Linked DNA regions of Homo sapiens: regions 2, 3 and 4 are each linked to region 1. The links come from fine-mapping of genetic effects on gene expression. A gene starts in region 1. Each other region holds a variant in brackets. All regions are shown on one strand. Distances are from middle to middle. Region 1 holds the start of GALNT8 (polypeptide N-acetylgalactosaminyltransferase 8). Region 2 overlaps KCNA6-AS1 (KCNA6 antisense RNA 1). Region 3 overlaps NDUFA9 (NADH:ubiquinone oxidoreductase subunit A9). Region 4 overlaps KCNA6-AS1 (KCNA6 antisense RNA 1).

Evidence for each region. PIP is the estimated chance that this variant, and not a neighbour inherited with it, causes the effect.
Region 2: its variant is fine-mapped to the expression of GALNT8 in whole blood (INTERVAL, PIP above 0.99).
Region 3: its variant is fine-mapped to the expression of GALNT8 in lung (TOPMed, PIP above 0.99).
Region 4: its variant is fine-mapped to the expression of GALNT8 in whole blood (INTERVAL, PIP above 0.99).

Annotation. Positions count from the first base shown.
Region 1 is chr12:4,718,289-4,723,560 of GRCh38, reverse strand. It overlaps GALNT8 (polypeptide N-acetylgalactosaminyltransferase 8), which reads right to left and starts at 3,161. Exons shown (of 11, transcript NM_017417.2): 1 at 2,673-3,161. The coding sequence starts at 2,883. It overlaps GAU1 (GALNT8 antisense upstream 1), which reads left to right and starts at 3,459. Exons shown (of 4, transcript NR_110112.1): 1 at 3,459-3,696. RefSeq lists enhancers at 1,053-2,048, 2,049-3,044, 3,045-4,040.
Region 2 is chr12:4,801,345-4,806,616 of GRCh38, reverse strand. KCNA6-AS1 (KCNA6 antisense RNA 1) reads left to right here. Exons shown (of 3, transcript NR_199077.1): 3 at 1-2,132. Among named protein-coding and RNA genes, the nearest start is that of KCNA6, 5.4 kb to the left of the region's middle. The variant C/ACACACACACC (reference allele first, on the strand shown) is at 2,814.
Region 3 is chr12:4,681,113-4,686,384 of GRCh38, reverse strand. It overlaps NDUFA9 (NADH:ubiquinone oxidoreductase subunit A9), which reads right to left. Exons shown (of 11, transcript NM_005002.5): 9 at 4,085-4,180; 10 at 1,060-1,126. Among named protein-coding and RNA genes, the nearest start is that of NDUFA9, 35 kb to the right of the region's middle. The variant A/G (reference allele first, on the strand shown) is at 3,059.
Region 4 is chr12:4,816,033-4,821,304 of GRCh38, reverse strand. All of the region lies in intron 1 of KCNA6-AS1 (KCNA6 antisense RNA 1), which reads left to right. It also overlaps a transcript of KCNA6 not described here. Among named protein-coding and RNA genes, the nearest start is that of KCNA6, 9.3 kb to the right of the region's middle. The variant TGC/C (reference allele first, on the strand shown) is at 2,465.

The DNA.
Region 1 (5,272 bases):
GTCCTAGCTGATGGAAAGAATAGCAGGGCTTTGGGTAGAACTCCTGCCATTTTACGGCTTGAGGAGGCTGAGCCAGTGTGATGAGCCTTGGGGATGGGTGAGACAGTCCTGGTGTGGTCTGGGTGCTCTGCCAAATAGTGAGGGTGGTGCTGGGGTCACCACCCTAGGTACACAGGCATCCTCCTGGTGAAGCTGCACCAAGCATATTTGCATGGGCAATGTCCGACCCACCCAGGTAAGCCAGGGCTTGTGGAGCTGATGATCTTCCCTCTGTTTCATCCACTCTCTTGCCCCGTATCACTCTTCCCTTCATCCCTGTCTGCCTGTCTTTTTCTCTCTCTTTCCTAGACACACCCACTCATTTATTCATCTATGGAATTTCGATGTATGAATAGAAATGAGTAGTGAATGAGACGTTCATGGAAACAGCACTTATGAAACTTGCTTTCCATAAAACTGTACCATAATAAAATATGATGAGTCTTATGAAGGAGGACGTGGAAGGTGCTATGGGTGCCTTAGGACTCCTCCTCTCTCCTTTTATTCTCTCCTTCTCTCCCATCACACTTTCCCTTCTTTTCTTCTTGTCTCCATACAAACTCTTTCACTCTCTCTCCCTGGACTCCCTCACTTCTCTGCTCCTTTCCTGTCCCAGCTCTTTTCTCCTCTCTCATCTCCCTTCTCACTCTCCTCGCTCTTTCCCTGATTTCTTCTCTCCCTTCCTTTTTCTCTTCCTGCCTTTCCTTCCACCCATCTCCCAGCCTCACCCTGAACCCTGACAATGCTCAGTTCTCATTTTAAAAGACACTTTCCCCAACTCCAGCCCCATGTGCACACACCTGGGCAGTCACATCCCTGCCCACACATAAAACACCTCCCTATGGGGTTCCAGCATTTGATCCCTGTTACCTGGGAGCAGGGGGAAATTGCTGCTTCCCTTGCTGAAGTTGGATGCACAGGCACATAAAATTCAGAGGCATTAGACTTCCATGGTGAGCCGGAATCACAAACAAACCCCAGAATGTGTTGAAATCTTACCCTTAAGTTTAAATGAGGAGGTTAAAATTTGGCACAGAGCAGTTTATAGATCACCTTCTGCATCTACTTCACAACCCTATTAGGTCAGGTTGATAACTATCACTATTGTTATCATCATCTCCATTTACAGACCAGGAACCTGAGGCTGAGAGAGAGAAGCACTTGCTCAAAGTCACACAACCACAATGGCACATCAGGATTCGATCTTAGGTCCTCTAACAAAGCCCTCATTAGTTCATGAAAGGAGCACACCGCAAAATGGAAGCGAGGCCCTTGCCCCAGAGATTGCCACCTCTCTTCAACAGCCCCTACCACACATAGGCGTGGGGAAAGGAAAGAGAGATCAGATTGTTACTGTGTCTGTGTAGAAAGAACTAGACATAGGAGACTCCATTTTGTTCTGTACTAAGAAAAATTCTTCTGCCTTGAGATGCTGTTAATCTGTAACCGTACCCCCAACCCCGTGCTCCCTGAAACATGTGCTGTGTCGACTCAGGGTTAAATGGATTAAGGGCTATGCAAGATGTGCTTTGTTAAACAGATGCTTGAAGGCAGCATGCTCGTTAAGAGTCATCACCACTCCCTAATCTCAAGTACCCAGGGACACAAAACACTGCGGAAGGCCACAGGGACCTCTGCCTAGGAAAGCCAGGTATTGTCCAAGGTTTCTCCCCATGTGACCATCTGAAATATGGCCTCGTGGGAAGGGAAAGACCTGACTGTCCCCCAGCCCGACACCCGTAAAGGGTCTGTGCTGAGGAGGATTAGTAAAAGAGGAAGGAACGCCTTTCTGCAGTTGAGACAAGAGGAAGGCATCTGTCTCCTGCCCGTCCCTGGGCAATGGAATGTCTCGGTGTAAAACCCGATTGTATATTCCATCTACTGAGATAGGAGAAAACCGCCTTAGGGCTGGAGGTGGGACATGCGGGCAGCAATACTGCTGTTTAAGGCATTGAGATGTTTATGTGTATGCATATCTAAAGCACAGCACTTAATTCTTTACCTTGTCTATGATGCAGAGACCTTTGTTCACGTGTTTATCTGCTGACCTTCTCTCCACTATTATCCTATGACCCTGACACATCCCCCTCTCCGAGAAACACCCAAGAATGATCAATAAATACTAAGGGAACTCAGAGGCTGGCGGGATCCTCCGTATGCTGAACGCTGGTCCCCTGGGCCCCCTTATTTCTCTCTACATACTTTGTTTCTGTGTCTTTTTCTCTTCCAAAGTCTCTCGTTCCACCTAACGAGAAACACCCACAGGTGTGGAGGTGCAACCCACCCCTTCAATAGGCCTAAGGACAGGTCTATGGCCCTTGGGATTCTTATTCTTCTCGTTGCCTGCACATATGTAGATATAATGATAATGCATGTGCACAAGCCCACACACGCATACACACACACATGCTCACCTCCCCCATACTGCTTGCTCTAATTTCCACTTCTACTCACTTCATTCTCAATACCCATCTCCCATTTGAAGGCACAGAATTCAGTGTCAGATGCTTCAATGAGCGACTGAGATGAAAATGTGACCTCTCACCCATTTTTCCTTCCATATCCCTTTTTCCTAAGTGCCCCAAACACACACACCCACACACACACCTTCCAGGTTAGCATTGTAAACTTACTCAGATCCTGCAATTCCACCTCCAAGTGGGAGAGTCTCTTTATCACTGCCCCGTAGCGTTTATTCAGATGTAAAGGAAGCTCCCTGTGGAGACCACCCGTAAACAGGTTTTGTAAAGTCCCCTTGCTAGAAAATACCAGAAGGAGATTGACAGCAATGGCCAGAGTCAGCCCAATGAAGAGGGCTTTGGGGAGTTTCCTCCAAAACATCATCTTCTTCCTGGGGGTCGTCCACTCCCTGTGGGACTGAGTGTGTCACTGCTGGAGCAGGTTAAGAATCAGAACCAGCCTAGCTTTTGTGGGAAAGAGAGTTCTAGGTGCCAGTTGAGTTGGTCTCCCCTGTGTGAGACACCCATGGGAAGCCACGGGTGGCCTCTGAGGAGCAAAGTCTCCTTATTGCCTTCTTTGTCTTTATGCCCCGAGAGGATAACCGCTCAGCGGCTTTCCACAGGTTGCTCAGCGGCTTTCCACAGGTTGCTCAGGGAGATAACACTCCCTTGAAGCAGAGGAGTATAATCAAACATCTTGGCTCCTCCTGAAACCCACTCCCACCCATTTCAGTCATTAAAGATCTTAAGTAGTTTAGACACACGCCTTTGCTCAAGGAAATTCACAGAAACCGCCACTGTTACACATCTTATCGAATGACTCACTGATTAATCCTTTTCCTCATCCCTTCCTCCCCTTCCCATCTGCCCTAAGAACAAAGAGCTTGTAAACCAATAAATTGGGTGGAGCCCAGAGCTCTGGGCCGTGAGCAAGCCTCCAACGCTCTGGTCCCCTGGACCTGCCTTTTAAACGCTTGTTCTGTCTCTTTCTAACTCCTTTGTCTCCGCCGGACTCGGGGTATCCGCTGGGTGGTGTGGGGCTGGTTTCCCCAACAGCTTTCTCTCCACCCAGCTTCATAGATGACACCCTGCCTGCTAGGCCAGATGTTCTCCGGCCAAGAACACTATTATAGCTGCCTGGCTTCTCCCTGAGCAGCGTCAGGTGTGAGGAGTGCGCATGGCAGCTGCCCAGTGACAGGTAAGTCACCTGGACACACCTTGTACTGTCTCAGAAGTCAGAAGAATGCTTGCTCCTGCAGCTAGCTCAGGCTGCCTGGGTGAGAGGCTTTTCTCTATATATGTTTGTTTGATGTTTAATGTTCTCTCTCCCTGGAAAAACCACCTGGGAGACTCTGATAGGGCATGTGAGGTCTGGTCCTGTGGGTATAAGAAGGGGATAAATAGGATGAAGAAGAAATCACGAAGCAAGAAGTCTCTGTACACTTAGATCCTTGCTTTTTTGGAGAGCTGGGATCTAAGATGTCTTTTTACCTAACTCTACAGGGTTTTGGACATAGTAGGTGTGCAACAAATGCTTGTCCCACAAACTTAAGGACAGACTTTCTTGCTAGTTCCTAGGACTTCACTGCCTAGAAGCAGGTGGAGAAGAGCTGGAGGCGGTGCCCGGGGTTGAGCCTCAGGGGATGACTCCGATTCACTGGTCTCTGTCCTTTGCTTGTCCTCTGCACAACTTCATACACTGGGCTTCTGCCCTGCCCCAGCTTCCAGTAACTCCTTTGCCTCCACACCTCACACTTATAATATGTTTTGGACAAATCACCAGTGATCATCATTGTAGAATAAACACATAAAATTGTTCCCCAAGGCTAAAAGTTCAAAGTTCTCAGTCTACTGTCAATCCCGTCAAAATCACAGCTTCCACCCCGGCCTGGCTCTTTGGACTATTTACTACGTCCCAAACACAGCACATGGTGACATGTGCTGAGGCGGACATGTGGATTAAAGGAAAGTAATGTGGCTTTAGGAAAAACAGGATGAAAATGAACAAAATGAAAAGGAATCACTTCTTCTGTTTCGCAGGGATAGAAAATGTCTCCCAGCCTCCCACTTGCAAATTAGACTCAAAACATAAGAAACGCATGATCCAGCCAGGCGCAGTGGCTCACGCCTGTAATCCCAGCACTTTGGGAGGCCGAGGCAGGTGGATCACCTGAGGTCAGGAGTTCAAGACCAGCCTGGCCAACATGGTGAAACGCCATCTCTACTAAAAATAACAAAATTAGCTGGGCATGGTGGCAGGCACCTGTAATCCGAGCGACTTGGGAGGCAGAGGCAGGAAAATCGCTTGAACCCAGGAGGCGGAGGTTGCAGTGAGTCGAGATCGCGCCACTGCACTCCAGCCTGGGCAACAAGAACAAAACTCCATCTCAAACAACAACAACAACAACTACAAAAAACAAACAAACAAAAAAGCATAACCCTTCTGCTTCTGGGACAAGAAGAAATACCTACATTTATCTTCTCTATTCCTTCCCATCAAGGCAAGTAAAAAGTACACATGATATGTAAAACAAACCTAAGAAGACTCTGAAAGGTAGAGAGAACAGGGCAGGCTGACTAGAGATCTCCAGATATCCTAGCTATTGTAGGAAATAGATTCCAAGTTGCTGGATGCTGGAGCAGTCAACAACTTGGAAATGCAATGGGCAGAGACAATAGAAGCCCCAAGAAAAAGCTGCTTTCTCTAACCAAAGAAACAGGAAATGGGAAGCCTAGCAAGACAGAAGATGTTTAGACAACAACTGCCCTACTCC
Region 2 (5,272 bases), 83 kb before region 1:
TTTCACTGTGCCCAGGGAGGTTCCCCTGAGAAGGACAAGCCATTGGCAAATTCATGAATCAGAGTTCTGTTTTTAGTTCTTTTGTGAAATAGACTCATTTCTTAGCTTAAGAAAAACCCTATGCCTAGATCATTCCCCCCAAGCGTATGTTAAGGATGAGTACAATCACACCTTCAGAAATGCCAGTTCCCAGGTGAAGGAAGACACAGCTCCATCCATAAACACTGCCAAGTGGCTTCCAATGGCAGGGGATTTTTCCCCAGCATTCACCAAGCACCAATTTCATGCCAGCACAGATTTTGTTGTTATTTTTTGTTGTTGTATCCAGATTCAGATGTTTGCCATGGTCATAGCAATCATTCATTTATTTAAAAAGTATATATTGAGCAGCTACTGAGTGCCAGCATGGTGCCAGGTGCTGAGGATTTAGCAGTGATCTATACAAAATATCTGCTTTGATAAGCATACATTTTCATGTAATAAATTACATTATAGACAGAAAATTTTAACAGTAGACAATAAGGAAAATAATTCCATATTGCAGTAAATGCCTTGAGGAGGATAAATGGGATGCCATGTCAGAAATGAACTTGGGGACTCAACTTTGCAAGGGTAGCTGGAAAAGTTCCCTCTGAAGAGGTAGTATTTCAACTGACAATCCAAAGAGGAGAATGGAGCCTGGCACGGTGGCTCATGCCTGTAATCCCAGCACTTTGGGAGGCTGAGGCAGGTGGATCACCTGAGGTTAGGAGTTCAAGACCAGTCTGACCAACATGGCAAAACTCTGTCTCTACTAAAAATGCAAAAATTATCTGGGCATGGTGGAGGGCACGTGTAGTCCCAGCTACTTGGGAGGTTGAGGCAGGAGGATCGCTTTAACCTGGGAGGTGGAGGTTGCAGTGAGCCGAGATTGTACCACTGCACTCCAGCCTGGGTGACAGAGGGAGATTCTGTCTCAAAAATAGATAAGAGAATGGGGCCACAGTGCCAAATGCAGGGAAGAGCATTCCAGACTGACAAGTGCAAAAGCCCTGAGCTAGAAAGGTCATGGGTGTTCAAGGTCAAAAAGAAGGCCGTGCGCTGGGAGGAGAATGGGCAAGGGAAAGGGAGGTGCAAGATAAGATTGAAGAATTAGCAAGGGTACCATCTTATAGGGTGAGGTGTTCAGGTTTTATCTTAAGGGCGGTATGAAGCCAATGATGGTTTTCAAGCAGAGGAGAGACGTGATGTGATTTACTTAGAGGCTGGGAGGGGAATGAATTATGAAGAGGTAGAAGAAGAAATAGAAAGACCAGGAAATTGCAGTCGTCTGGGGAAAAGATGATGGTGACTTGGGCCAGAGAAAGGTAGAGTCAGTAGAGATAGAGTGGAGAGGAGGTGAGGAGAACTGAGGAGGTATGTTTAGATGATAGAATCAGCAGGAATTAGTCATCAATAAAACATGAGAAATAAGCAGCCAATGCCAAGCTCAAGCAACTAGGCAGGTAGGTGTCGCCCTTTACTGAGAAAGGGAAGACAAGGGGTTAAACAAGTTGGGATGCGTCAAGACCTCACCTTTAGATGTTTTACATTGGAGAGGGAAATTATACATGCAAATTAAGACATCAAGGAGGCAGTTATTTATTTAGGTCTGGAATATGAAAAAGAAACTTACGATTTATGAATTTAAGACATCTAGAAATATATACATTCATGGCACCAAGGTCTTCTGCAGAAACAGAATATGGACAACGAGGAGAAATGACCAGGACCAAGTCCTTCACAGCAGTCTTCAATCTACCGGTCAAGGTCAGGAGGAAGGGCAGCCAGCATAGGAGGCTGAGGGGTTGTAGGTGAAGTCAAAGGAAAGCCAAGAGATGGAGAGCTCCTGGAAACCAACAACCAGGACTAGACCCCAGGGGCCCCATCCTCCTGGGCCCACGCTGGCCTTCCAGTGGAACACATGATCTGCAACAGGTCAGGAGTACGTGGGGGGCATCCATGGGAAGAACCACCTAAGAATGGACGTATGTGCCCACAAGATGAGCACAGATAATGTGAAGCATTGTGTGATAACCATTTATATTCTGACCTCTGCCCTAGGTTCTAAAATGTACCTATTCCAGGTATATAAATGACATAAATGATCTGTCTTCCAGGCTTCTTTACATTTTTATTTTGCTGTGTGTGTGTGTGTGTGTGTGTGCACTTGTCATCATTCTGGTAATACGATCCCTGAAGTTTTCCTCTTTCTCTGTGTAACCTCTGAAAATGGTTCTCCTCATGGTCCTGTCACCCACAGGCCCCTGCTCTGAGGACAGGGTGGCGAGTCGTCAGCTCCCTTACCTCTTACTGAGAGAACACAACACTTGTGCACAAGCACGGAACACCCTCCCTAGAATGACCCACCCCACTCTTGAGCTTTCCACTGTGGAATCCAAACCACTCAGAGCCAGTGAGAAGCAGGGGTGATGAGTCTGAGCCCGTGTCCCTCCTCTCACCATCTCACTCTGGGCAAGGCTCTGCCCTCGAGCTTTGGTTCTTCAGCGTGTTCCAAGTGGAAGCTCCTCTGTCCAAACACAGCGTTCTGCCTGGCCCAACTCCCTTCTCTGGTCCCCTCATTCACCCCTTTCCCCAGGGTCTGGGTCATGTTTACTCCTTCTCTTAACCTTCTCCTACTTTTTCTGCTGGAGAGAGAAGACAGCATTGAATCCTGGGGAAGAAGGGGAGAAAAATGGATGACCGGGTAATTCTATACTTTGCAGTCAATTTTTGCTGTTTTCCTTTTGTTCCCCTCCTTCTACACACACACACACACACACACACACACACAC[C/ACACACACACC]AAAAATTTGGTCATCTGAGAGTTACATTAAAAAGAAGTCAGATATCTTGAACTTCGAGGGTTAATTTCCTGCAGTAGCACCCACTGGTTCCACAAACTCATTGATGTTCCCTGCCAACACTTGATAGCACAACGCTTTGACCTGAAGTTCCCTTCTATTCATTTCGTCTCTGGATGCACTGTGGCCATTTCCCTCCTCCTGGGCTTCCCCTGTGGCCAAGTGGATGGAGTCAGGGGGACAAATGAAAACACATGTGCTATACAAAAGCACTATTTATAATTAGCTGCTTAGTCCAATTTTTAATGAGGACGATGATGTCAGTTACAAAGTAGTGATGGTGATGATGATGTTCCATAATTCAGTAGAGAAAAATCTAACAGCTTTCGCTTGGGTGAAGCTGTATATTAGAAAAGAAATGCATTAGACATCTGTGCCACACCAATCAACAGCCTCAGGAAATTACTATCCATGCCAAGAAATAAATCTATAACGAACTCCTTATCCTTTCGGGGAGGATCCCAAGAGAGCTTGTTAGTATCCTAAGTTTGCAGCCTACATCTTCATCCAATTCTCCTCCTGTGATAGTCATTAATGCTGTTTTCCAAATGTCTCCAGCTCTCTACTTTTCAGGAACATGGAGAATTTTACTGTCTCACTCACTTGTGGCTGTGTGGTACCAGGCAAGTAGTTCTGGACAGTGAGTTATAAGCAGAAGTGGTATGTGTCACTTCTGAACCAAAATATTTAATTCCTCATGGGAAAGCCCCCAGAGCTTTCTTCACGCCAGCCACAATGACCAGCTTTGTTCAAGATGGTGGCTGCTCTGTCAGAGTGAGCTGCATTACAGGGTAAGGTGGCAGGAAGCTTGGCCCCCAGCCGAAGCAATAGTAGCATAAGTGAGAAACAAACCCTTATTGCTCTAATCCTCTGGTATTCAGGGATTGATTTCTTCCCATAGCAGAATCAAGTCTACCCAAACTGAAGTAAGAAGCTGCCAAAAGTAAAAAGTTAAAACCTGTGACATGGCCAGGCATGGTGGCTCACACCTGTAATCCCAGCACTTTGGGAGGCCGTGGTGGGCAGATCACAAGGTCAAGAGATCGAGACTATCCCAGCCAACATGGTGAAACCCAATTTCTAAAAATACAAAAATTAGCTGGGTGTGGTGGTACACACTTGTTGTCCCAGCTACACAGGAGGCTAAGGCAGGAGAATCGCTTGAACCTGGGAGGCGGAGGTTGCAGTGAGCTGAGATTGCACCACGGCACTCCAGCCTGGCAACAGAGTGAGACTCCGTCTCAAAAAAATAAATAAATAAAATTTTAAAAATTAAAAAAATACTTGTGACATTGGTTCTGTGGCCAGATGACAGGTATTGAAGAAATTTTATAGGAGGCCATTGCAGGCAATCCATGTTACAAATGGAAAAATATTCTGAAAACTGTCATCTGTGATAACTTAGAAAGCAGATTATATCCCTAAAATCCTGCATATCTAGGAAGATGGTTGAAAAACAGCTTGTTATATTGTATGGTGGCCACTGCTGGCTGCATCTGACAATGTAGTGCAAGATATTGATGAGTTCAGAAAAGATTTGGCCAGAAAGCAGAGATGAAATGGACAGGAGAGAGTCCAGAAATGTGGGGATTTTCAGTGTAGACAGAGACAGCTGCTTCTCATTCCCCAAAGAAGTAAACAAAACTTAAAAGACCTTTATACAAGAAAGACTGATGAGTGCTTCAGCTCATGCCATGGAACAAATCAAGCACAGGGCAGTCATGTCCATTGTCAGTTCCTCTGAATGGAATAAGTCATTTAGGGCAAAAGTTTAATTGAAGTTATGGCTTCAAAAAATCATTCAAACTGGGCAAACTGGCTCAAGTAAGAGCGAGAGAAAAAACAAGACTAAAGCTGTAACATCCCACAAATAATATATATACCCAAATTATTGCTGTTAGGTTCAAGTTGAGAAGAACCATGGCTCCCCCAGGCAAAATACACTTACCTACTCCCTAAGGAAGATAACCCCAAAGTCCTACCCAGTCCTGGTATCAAGCTGAAATGCTAGGTTCTCTAGCAGTGCGTAGTAGTTTTTATATTAAGGAGTGACATGTGCTAGTCTCTACATCAGTTTTGAATATGGATTTCTGCAATTCAGAGACTTAAAAACCCAAAAGACAAATTATCTGCCTCTATCCCATAGCACGACATACAATGGCTCCTTTAGAATAGGATAACAACTGTAACCATAGGTGTGGTTATTGGCTATCAGTACATAGATCTGCCCGAAACACATAGGAAAAAGCCTAAGAAGATTTTCAGACAGTCATCCTGCCAAAGGAACCATGACCTGAACGAAACCATTCACGACTTTTCAAAATGTAATGTACCGTTGGGCCCCTAAATTATCATGGACAAGAAGCCGGCCAAGAAAGCTGCTCAATATCATCTGCAATTC
Region 3 (5,272 bases), 37 kb after region 1:
ACTAATGCTCACTGTAGAGCTAGAAAACCAAACCCATCTTGTTTATAGGGAAAGATAATGAACTGTAAAGTTTGCAAACATCCCAGATTATTATTCAAAACCACATAAATAGAATCCATTTGCACCTAGAGCAGCAGCAATCCCTCATCCTACCCACCTGAAAGTCTGCAATTCTTTTACCAGAGGGCTGTAAGCCAGTCTGCAAACCAAATCCAAAACCTACTCAGGCCACTGTATCAACACTTTCTCAAGTATAAACGTAAGAGACACTTTAGTGTAAGATAAACTGAAGTGTCTGACAACCAGCGATCCTGCCTGATCTTTCATAGACCATGTCTGAAGAAAGTATGTGAGTTGCCCACTTCCACATGTTCCCTAAGCACTACTTTCTCATCTTCTCTACACTTTAGCTTTCAGGCAGCATTCAGGGGACAATTTGGCTACTTCTTGCCAATATATGGTCCATAGGTCTTCCAAGGTAGATGTGGTATTGGTATAGTATTTTTATTTTATTTTGCATCCTCCCTAGAAGCAAATGCACAGGCACATGACATGAGGTCTGAGAACTGACCATTGGATGTGGCAGCAAGGAGACTGGAGATTGTGGATAACCTTGAAAAGAGCAATTTTAGGGGAGAAATGGGAATAAAAGCCTGACTGGAGTAGGTTAAAGAAAGAAGGAAGAAACTGTCAACAGTTTCTTCAGGACGTTAGGAGGAAGTTAGGAGGAGTTAGGATGTGAAGGGACACAACAGGAAAGTAGCTGGAAGAGTGATGGGAGGAAGAGAGGCTTTGGCAGGGGAGCTATTAGGCAATTTTGTGTGTTGACAGGAGTGATCAAGCAGAGAAAGAAACACTGATAATGACGGACAGAAAGTAGGGAGGAGCCGCCCCCTGGAGCAGGGCAGGTGGATGAGCTTCAGCGCTAGTAGAGGGGCTGACTGCAGACAGCAAGAACAGCAAACAGACAAGGGCCGGGAAACAAGCAAGCAGGCAAAGCAAAATAAGTCTAACGCCTCATCATCTGCCCAGGCAGACGCTTTCCACACATGTACTCACCCGCTCCACTTTATCCCTTGTTATCCAGGGCTCAAATGGGCTTATTTCAAAGACTCTTGCTACCCATCTGGAAAGAGAAATACATATAGCACATGTGATAAGCATCTCTCTGCCCAAGATGTAAGCTAGCCTATGAGAACTGCAGGAAGACAGACCGCTGTAGAGCAGTCTGAACTGATTTTTTTTTTTTAAGAAAATAACCACCTCGACCTGTGAGGCTACCTCTGCTTTTTGGTCCATCTCCTCTCAAGCCAACCCAGTCGGCTGCTGTAACTGCTGGTACACTTTGTTCTCCTCCAAAGAAACAACAGATCTTAAACTTAAAATGAAATAAAACCAACAAACAACAAAGCAAACAGAAAAACTCCAGTATTTAATCAAGTCTGTGAAATTCAATTTAATCTAAACCTCAGATATTCAAATATGCTGCCTTTACAGAAGCAGGGCAAGCTGAATGGTGTGTAAAATATACAACGTAACCCCTGAAAGCTGGGGCCCTTGAGGAAAAAAAAAAAAATCCAAAAGCAAGGAGAAGGCTAAAATCTACGGTTCAAATCAGGACGACAATATAAAACCCAAAACGGAAAAGGCCACCTATCTTCATTACTGCCATCTCTTCACTGCTAATGAAAATTGAAGGGCTCCTTACGTGCCACTTGAGCTCCCATCATCAGTTACCTCAGGGCAGTGACTTTTTCTTTTCTTTCCTTGTTTTTGTTCCACAGACAGGGTCTCACTATGTTGTCCAGGCCGGACTCACACTCCCAGGCTCAAGTGATCCTCCCACTTCAGCCTCCCAAGTAGCTGGGACTACAGGTGTACACCACTGTGCCCAGTAGCAGTGGGTTTTCAACTAGCATCTGAGGAACACTAGGAATTTGCTGGGGCCCCACAGAGTCCTGGGGGGCCAAGGGTTTGGGAGTACATGCGTTGAGTATCACCCATCACTGCAACCAGACCAGCTCTTTTATTGGATTTACCCAGCAGGACTTGACGTAAAACTTCAGTGAGCACAGGGTTCCACAGCCGTTTAAAGGCTTGAAAAACAACATTCTAATGCATAGTATAAATAAATGAAAAAGGAAGCTGGCTGGAATTTCTCCAGCAACATATAAAGCCTCAGATTCCTCAACGGCAGAAAAAAATAATTTATTGGGCTAACATAGCTTAATAAAAACACTCATTACAAACCTCTAACTCTCTGTGCCCTCATTCTATGCTAACAGATCACTTCAGGTCTCTATTCTAGTGTCCTCAGTGGGCCATGTCATGGGCATACATAAGCCAACTCTAACTCAATTTTATATACAACCATGAAAGTGCCTCACTGCAATCTGGCTTATATCCCTTTCACGGCACTGAAGCCACGGTCACAATGGTCATTTGTAGACATTTTTTGGTCCTTTATCTTATTTGACTTTTCTGTAAGACTTCATTCTACCAATATTAACAGAGTGCCTAATGTGTACCAGGCATTGTTCTAGGGGCTTGAGATACATGTGAATGAACAGCAATGTTCCCCTTCTTAAAACATCGATTCTCTCCTGAAAACACTCCATTCCCTTTGGTATCTAGAATTCCAAACTCTCATTTCCCACTTAAATGCCTGATCACTTTTTGGCCTTCTTGTAAGTTTCTCTTACTCTGTGGCCTCCTCTTCCACTCACTCCACATACTCTCCTTACTTACTTTATAGATAACTGAGTATTAAAGGAGACAAAGTGAATAGTCTGAAAGGTGTAACACTCAATAAATATCGTTATCACCCTGCATTCTAGTGGTCTATTTTTCTGGTACCCCTGTTAGACCATAAGATTTTTGAGTTTTTGTTGTAACATTCTGACCATAAGATTTTTGAGTGTTTGTTGTAACCTTCTGAGTACCTAGTACATTATCTAAGACATAGTAGGCATTCAATAAACATTTGTTGAATGAATGGATGAAAACCCAAATGAAGATCAGTTTGTGGCACAATGGATGTGACAGTCTCCTTAACCAG[A/G]CCACTAGGGTGTGACATGGTAAGTTCAAGATTTTATTTTATTTGGTTCAAATCAGGACAATATAAAACCTAGGACGAGAAAGGAGCTCCCATCAACAGTTACCTCAGGGCAGTAGGTTTTTCTTTTCTTTCTTTTTTTTTTTTTTGTTCCAGAGACAGGGTCTCACTATGTTGTCCAGGCTGGATTCAAACTCCTGAACTCAAGTGATCCTCCCACCTCAGCCTCCCAAGTAGCTGGGACTATAGGTGTGCACCACTGTGCGCAGTAGCAGTCACCTAGGCTGGAGTGCAGTGGCACAATCTCAGCTCACTGGAAGCCTTGAACTCCCAAGCTCAAGCAATTCTCTTGCATCACCCCACCTCCACCCCAGTAGGTGGGACTACAGGCAGATGCCACCACATCCAGCTAATTTGGTATGTTTTGTAGAGATGGGGCTTCGCTATATTGCCCAGGCTGGTCTCAAACTCCTGGGCTCAAGCAATCTGCCCTCCTTGGCCTCCCAAAGTACTGGGATTATAGGCATGAGCCACCACTCCCAGCCAAGTCAAAGATATTTAACCCACAAAGAGAAGAAGTAAACTAAGAAGCAGGGAAAGAAGAGAAGGCAACCACAAATCCAAGTCTGAATTAGCCTGACTCCTTTCCCCAATAGCATGATCAGGTTGATTTAATAATGAGCGACATGAAACACAGGGGAACCTGACTGCCCCTTACATATGTGCCTAGCAAGATATTTCTCCAAAATTAAACTCGATGGTTTTAAATTGGAGAAAGTGAAGAACTGCATCTTCACTTTTGGGAAGTGGGAAGATTCACTTTTGGGAATTGGGAAGATTTAATGTTCCAATATATTTTTTTTTAACCAACACTAATCTATTTCTGCTTCTTCTCTATGCTAATGTCATAACACTAGGAGATCTGGAGACCAGCCCTTCACACACCCTATAACCCTAAGGGAGAACATTAGGAACAAGTGTGTGGAGCTGGCTTTTTCAGAAGTCACACAAAAGGAGCACTCTACTTACCGATAGGCAAAAAGCGGCAAGGGGAATGGGAGGAACAATCTGTGAGCCACAGCAAAGATGTACTTCACCAGGTGGAAAAGGAGGTACCGACTGGGACTATAAAAAGACAATACACAGTTCTTTCAATTACACGCTTCTCACAAAGTTTCCTTTATAACAAAATAACATTTTCCTTATAAAAAAGGAAACATATATGCACTGTAGTAGATACAGAATAGCACAAAGAAAAATCACCCATAATCCCATTATGAAAGATAGTTAATATATTTGATCTATATCCTTCTCATCCCCTTACATATATACATTATTCTGCTTTTAATAAATACACAATCCATTCTATTCCGTAATGTCTTTTTCATTTAACATTACATCATAATCGTCTTTCCACATCATTATTTTATTGCATGTTTCATGACAACATATTACACTGCATGTAATCACAATTATTTTATCAATTGCCAGTTTTGAGATATTTATGCTATTAAAATTTTTTTCTTTTATAATGTTTTAATGAACATTCTTGTAATAAATATTTGTACTTATCCATGATTACGCATTTAGAATATATTTGTAGAAGTGGAACTGGGTCAATGTAGACTTTAAAATTTTAAGGCTTTTATTGAATACTTCTAAACTGCTTTTCAAAATGGTTCTATCAATTTATATAAAATGTTAAGTATATAACATTTTAGATAATTATATAAATTATAATTATATATATGTAATTATATATAAGAATGCCCCCTCCACCCGAAATGAGTTGTCATAAGAAAATAAAATTTTTGCCAATCTGCTAGGTTAAAAAAAAAAAGGTATCTCATGTTTTAATTATTATGTCTTTAATATGAGAGATCATTTCTTCACGAATTTTTGGTCATTTATACATCTATCTTTTCTTTCCTCCTGGAGTCCCTGTCTATAAAAATAATTTGTAAGAATTCTCTATATTTTAGTGATATTGTTGGAAATACCTTTTATTGTTTGTATTTTAACTTTTAGTGTTATTTACAGTGTTTTGTGCACATAAAATTTTAACTGTTTAATTTAACCAAAACTACTGATTTTCTTTATGGCTTGGATTCATAGTTAGAAAATTCCTCTGCAGTGACATAAATTTCTACATATTTTGTCTAAACCTTATAAAAAAGATTTTTTTTTTACTATAAAGTTCCTTCTGTGACGTATTTT
Region 4 (5,272 bases), 98 kb before region 1:
TGCAGGGAACACAGCTATTTTCCCCACCATACCGGACCTCTTTTCTCTTTCCACCAATGCCAAATTGCCTTAAAGCAGCTGGGGAGTGCCTGGCTGATTTATGGCTCAACCACCAGGCCTTCTGGACACGTTCTTCCTCCTCACCCTGGTCCTGTGATTTGTAAAAGATCTCTGTAACTGACAGTCACTTCTCTTTCTCTATCGGGGCAACAAAGTGCAGGGAAGAGTCTAGAAACTGGTTTCTGCCTCCCAAGGCATCAGAAGTCAGCGTTCCTGGGTAAGATGCTGGCCTTCTGCATCCCTTCTTTCCGCTATAAAATTCAGAAGACTCAGATAACCCCTTGACTTCCTGATTTCCAATCTATGACAGTTTCCTTCTGTCCAGTCACTAAATTTAACAGAAAAAATAAAGCCTTAAGAGGTTAAAGAATCCCTTAATCAGTGAGATTAGAAGCCCAGAGCCTGTACATGAGCCTCTCTTTGTCCAGTGCTAAATACCTTTGGTCTGCACTAGCCCTCAGTCATTAGTCCTCCCTTAAAAATCCAGAAGCTGGTCATCTGGTTCTGGGCTTCTCTAGCTAGGCTCACTGCCTCTGTGCCCTGGAAACTCAGGGGAGGGAAAGATAAAAGTTAAAATCACTTAATTCCATTTTCTATGGGCAGCTCTGCTAAGGAGTTTGGTTGGGTAGAAAATGAAGAGTTATTTTTAAGAGTGTGTGTGTGTGTGTGTGTGTGTGTGTGTGTGTGTGTGTGTGTGTTTAGGTAATCCTTACAGTTCCATTTCCCATGGGAAAATATGCTGGAGTTGGAGTTAGAAAATTTGGGTCCCAGGCACAACTCTGCCCCTAATTTCCTGTGTGATCTTCGGCAAATTATTTCACTTCTCTGCATCAGTCTCCTTCTTCCTAAAGAGGCATTCACTGCCCCCTCCATCTGTGACCCTCTGCAATGCTCCAGGGCCTGAGGGAAGGGTTAAGTGAGAATTCTCATTCTAGTTTGGCTGGAAACAAACTTTGTTAAAATATATACATATTACCAGTATATCCATCCTATTCTTCCAAGATATATTCAGATTATATTTCTGTATATTAAATCACACCGTAAGGGCAATTATTTAAAGAAATTCTGCTGTGAATCCTCTGGGCAAAGAGCCTTCTGGTAAAAATAGCTAGCTATCCTGAGTCTATTTTTTATGTCATATTTCATTTAAATGTTTATTTCAGAGAACAAAACTGCAGTTGGCAGGGACCCTGCCTTTCTCTGACGTGCAGGTAGTTTCGGCCCCACTCTCGGATGGGTGTTTGGTGTCTCTAAGGGTCTCTCTGCTGATTGGCAGTGGGAAGAGCCATGCTTTGCTAAGAGTTTATTTCCTGCTAAACTCTTTCACTGGCTGCCTCTTCTGAATCTCACAGCAACTGTGTAAGGCAAGTGATGTTAGCTTCCTTATTTTGCAGATGACGAAACTGAAGCTCGGTGAGGTTAAATGAGGTACAGCTAATAAACAGTGATTCAGACCAATTCTCCAACTCCCATGGCAGGCAAGCCAGCAAGCTCAGAATCCTCAACCATGAGGGCAGCCACGTCACCTTGCCCTGGGATAGGACCTTTGTTAAGAAGCCGTAGTGGCTGTGGCAGTGAGCTGAGGGTGAAGACAGCAATCTGGCCCGTGCCAAGACCCCTAACAAGAGATGTCATAAATGCTCTTTAGGTGGAGTGAAGGCCAGGGGAGACCCACAAGGGCAGGGGAGCTGGCTTCTTCCAACTACGAGGCCTCCTGTCTCCTCCACCTCAAAGAAGGACAGGAAAGCAGAAACACAGCCACGGGAGATTAAGGGGTACCCCCACCTGCAAAGGGGGCCGTGAAGGTGACTGGGGAAAAGAATGCATGCTGACGGTGAGGACCAGGACAGTGGAAGTTTGAAAGCCACTGGAACAGGGTAGGAAAACTCTGGGCCAGGGGCTGGCTTGTGGGTTCTGTCCCTTCTGCTAACTATAAGACCCTGCATTCTTCCCAAGGAAGAAGGCAGGAGCAGGTGTGTGAGGAAAACTCGAATGCAGTGTCAACCACTGAGAATGTTAAAATGGGAGAGGGAGATCAGTGGCAGTACTGAGAAAGGGATCCATAGAAAGATGTTCCACGTATATATGCTACACACATATAGAATATATAGCACCATATGTGTTTGTGTATATACGTGGGTATATGTATAAGCATGCATGTATGTGCCTGTGCATACGTGTGTATATGTTTGTGTGTGCATATACGTGTGTATACATGTGCATATGTATATTCATGTTTCTGTATATATACGTGTGTGTATATGTGGTTTTGTGTGTGCATATGTGTATATATGTGTATGTGTGTGTTTTTGTGTATGTATGTATGTGTATGTATGTATATATATTTATGTGTGTATATACGTATGTGTGTATATGCATATGTGTGTGTGTGTGTGTGTGTGTG[TGC/C]ACTTTCAGGGACCCATAGGGAACAAAAGCACAGGACACCTGCTGCTGCTCCATCAGAGACAAGCTGGCATGTAAACAGAAGTCTATAAACACATTTAGGAGCTATGGCTTCATTCTTCTTGCCCAATAACAGTTAGACCCTCACTGCATTCCATTCTGTTCCATCTCCCCTGAAGAGGATGAAACACACATTACTGTGTGCCTTTAAAGACATCACAACCCCTCTGAGCTTCAGTTTTCTTATCTGCCAAAGAAAAAAACAAAGCCTAGCCTACCTACTTCATTTCACTGCTGCAGGATGATAATAACAGCTGACATTGTACATTTAAACACTGTACATACATTAATTCATTTAATCCTCAAAACAACCCTATCAGATTGGTACTATTATTATCCTCCATTTGACAGAGAAAGAAACTGAGGCCACAGAACTGTTTCATAACTTGCCCCATGTTACCCAGCAAAGGAGGGATTTGAGCCGCGACGATCAGGCTCCAGCAACTATGCTCTTAAACCCTTTGTTAAATCGCACGATGTCTGAAAGCACTGAACGTGTTTGACAATGTTCTGTAAATGAATAGCACCATTCTTATTCTTGCTAGGACTATTCCCAGTGGGAAGGATGCAACGCAAGGTCAGGATTCCCTAGGTGAGGATAAATCCTGCAACCTCAGATCTGCAGCCCCACTAGCCAGGTGCCACGCTTCCAGTGGCAAGTCCTCCCCGCCCCTCCCAGCTGCAGGACTGTCTTCCTATGTTCTTTTTCAAAGCAGTGTCTCTGCTGCCAAGAGCAGGTTTGTCTGTCTCCTGGAGACAGCGGTTGTCAAGCCCTGAGAGAACAGCAAGCATGTCAAAAATAGCAGCGCCAGCAGACTGCGTGGCTGCAATTTCCTTTTGAAATGTCGCCTTTGCTCTCACCAAAGAGCCAGGGTCTGTCTGCGCTCCTTGCAGCCTGCAGCAGAAGCTGCTTAAGATTCCAAAATGTTTTCCAGGAGGAGGTAAAGTGTATCTGCTGAGGCTCGTGACCGAGGAGTGAGGAATTCTCTTTAGAGTAACAATGATGAGGTTGGAGTTGGATTAAAAAAAAAATTGTAATAAATCCCATCAGGACTAGTCCCCAAACAGGTCAAGTGATAGCCAAGGTTAGACCAGTGCGAATGATACTTCCTGTAGGGTAGGAACCTTTCCTCTTTTGTTCTGAAAATGAGGGAGTCCCTCTCCTATTGTTAATGTGCACCTTCAAACACAGCAGCTGCTTTGATAACCCTTCAAAGGCAGTGGCTGATAGATTTCCACTCCCCCTTTAGGGTACCAGGTGAAGCCAGGGGATGAGGACCAAGAAGACCAAGAGGCAGGGTGAACTATTTTCTCAAGTTCAGAACAAAGGGACATGAAAAACATGACCATTCCCAACCCCACAGAGACTCACTCAAGGCCAGCACAGGAAAGTGGTTCATCAGGAGACCTGGCAAGATGAGAGGCTAAAAGCCCATCTGTCTTTCTTCCCCGCGGCCTATGTCTGGGAAGATCCCTCTCCCTGCCAACTGCCAAGCTCCAGACCCTGTTCTGCCATGAGCTATCTGTGCAACCCAAGGCAAAATATGAAGCGGGATGGAGAGAGGAACTCCTACCACCTAGTAAATGGAATTCTTTTCCTCCCCTAAGTGACTGTGACAAGGTAGGATTGGAGGACACTTTCCTCCCCACTTCCTTCCCATGGCAATAACACACAGTCAAAACCCATGTGAGCCAGGATGGCAGCTCCAGCCAGATTGTCCTGGAAGGACCACGCTCTCTGGGAATCTATCTTGGAATGTATGTTGAGTTGCAGGCAGATAGAAATGCTGCTGCAAGCAAGGGCTCAGCCAGCGGAGAGGAGAAATGACAAGCCACAGGACTGGCTGGTGCATCTGAGGAAAGCACCAAGGAGAGGGAAGGGAGGGTCCAGTGGGCACAAGGCAAAGCAGGCCAAGAGGGGATCAGAGTCTGGGAGAGAATCATTGAAAGGCTCAGTAAGACAAATGAAGGCCGTTACCGTCCACTTCTTTTGTTTACCGGAAGCACCAAAGACTGCTGGGACCTCTTCATAGGGCTGTTAAGCATCAATAACGACTGTAGAGGGACTGTAGGTAGGGGGCCAGGGAAAATAAAACCTTTATGTACCCACAAAAAAAATTTCAAAAAATTCAAAAATAAAATAATAACCATAGTAGATAAATACATAAAACCTTGGGCCCTATGCAATCTCTTAAGGAATTCTGAGTTTACAGGTGCAGGGATTTGGTGGGGTTTTTAGTTTGTGGGAACTTTTCTTGGAGTTTTTTTCTTTTTGCCAGCAAAGTGTAAGTTCCCTGGGCAAGCTCAAGACCGTAGTCCTGTATAATGAATAATGTTCAACATATATATCATAGTTCAGTGCATGCTAATTATGCCCTGCACTTACCCAAAAAATGGCATGACATATCTTTAGAGGAAAAAAAGAAAAAAGAGAAAAGCATGTAACTCTCATAACAATTTGATGTCAAAACGAAGCACACACAGACACACACACACACACACACACACACACACACACACACACACACACACCAGTTCGTGGTATTGTGCATGAATAGCAACGATCGACTGCATATAAGCTCTAAAGTGTCCCCATGTGGCAGAAGAAAAAAACTGTCATTCTATTCTAGATATTGTCTGGTCCATTTTTAGACATGCTAAGCTTCTAGATTTATAGGACCAAACCGTTCTCCCAGCCCAGATGGAAAACTCCCAGATTATTAGACTCGTTGCTTTCTTTTTTTTCACA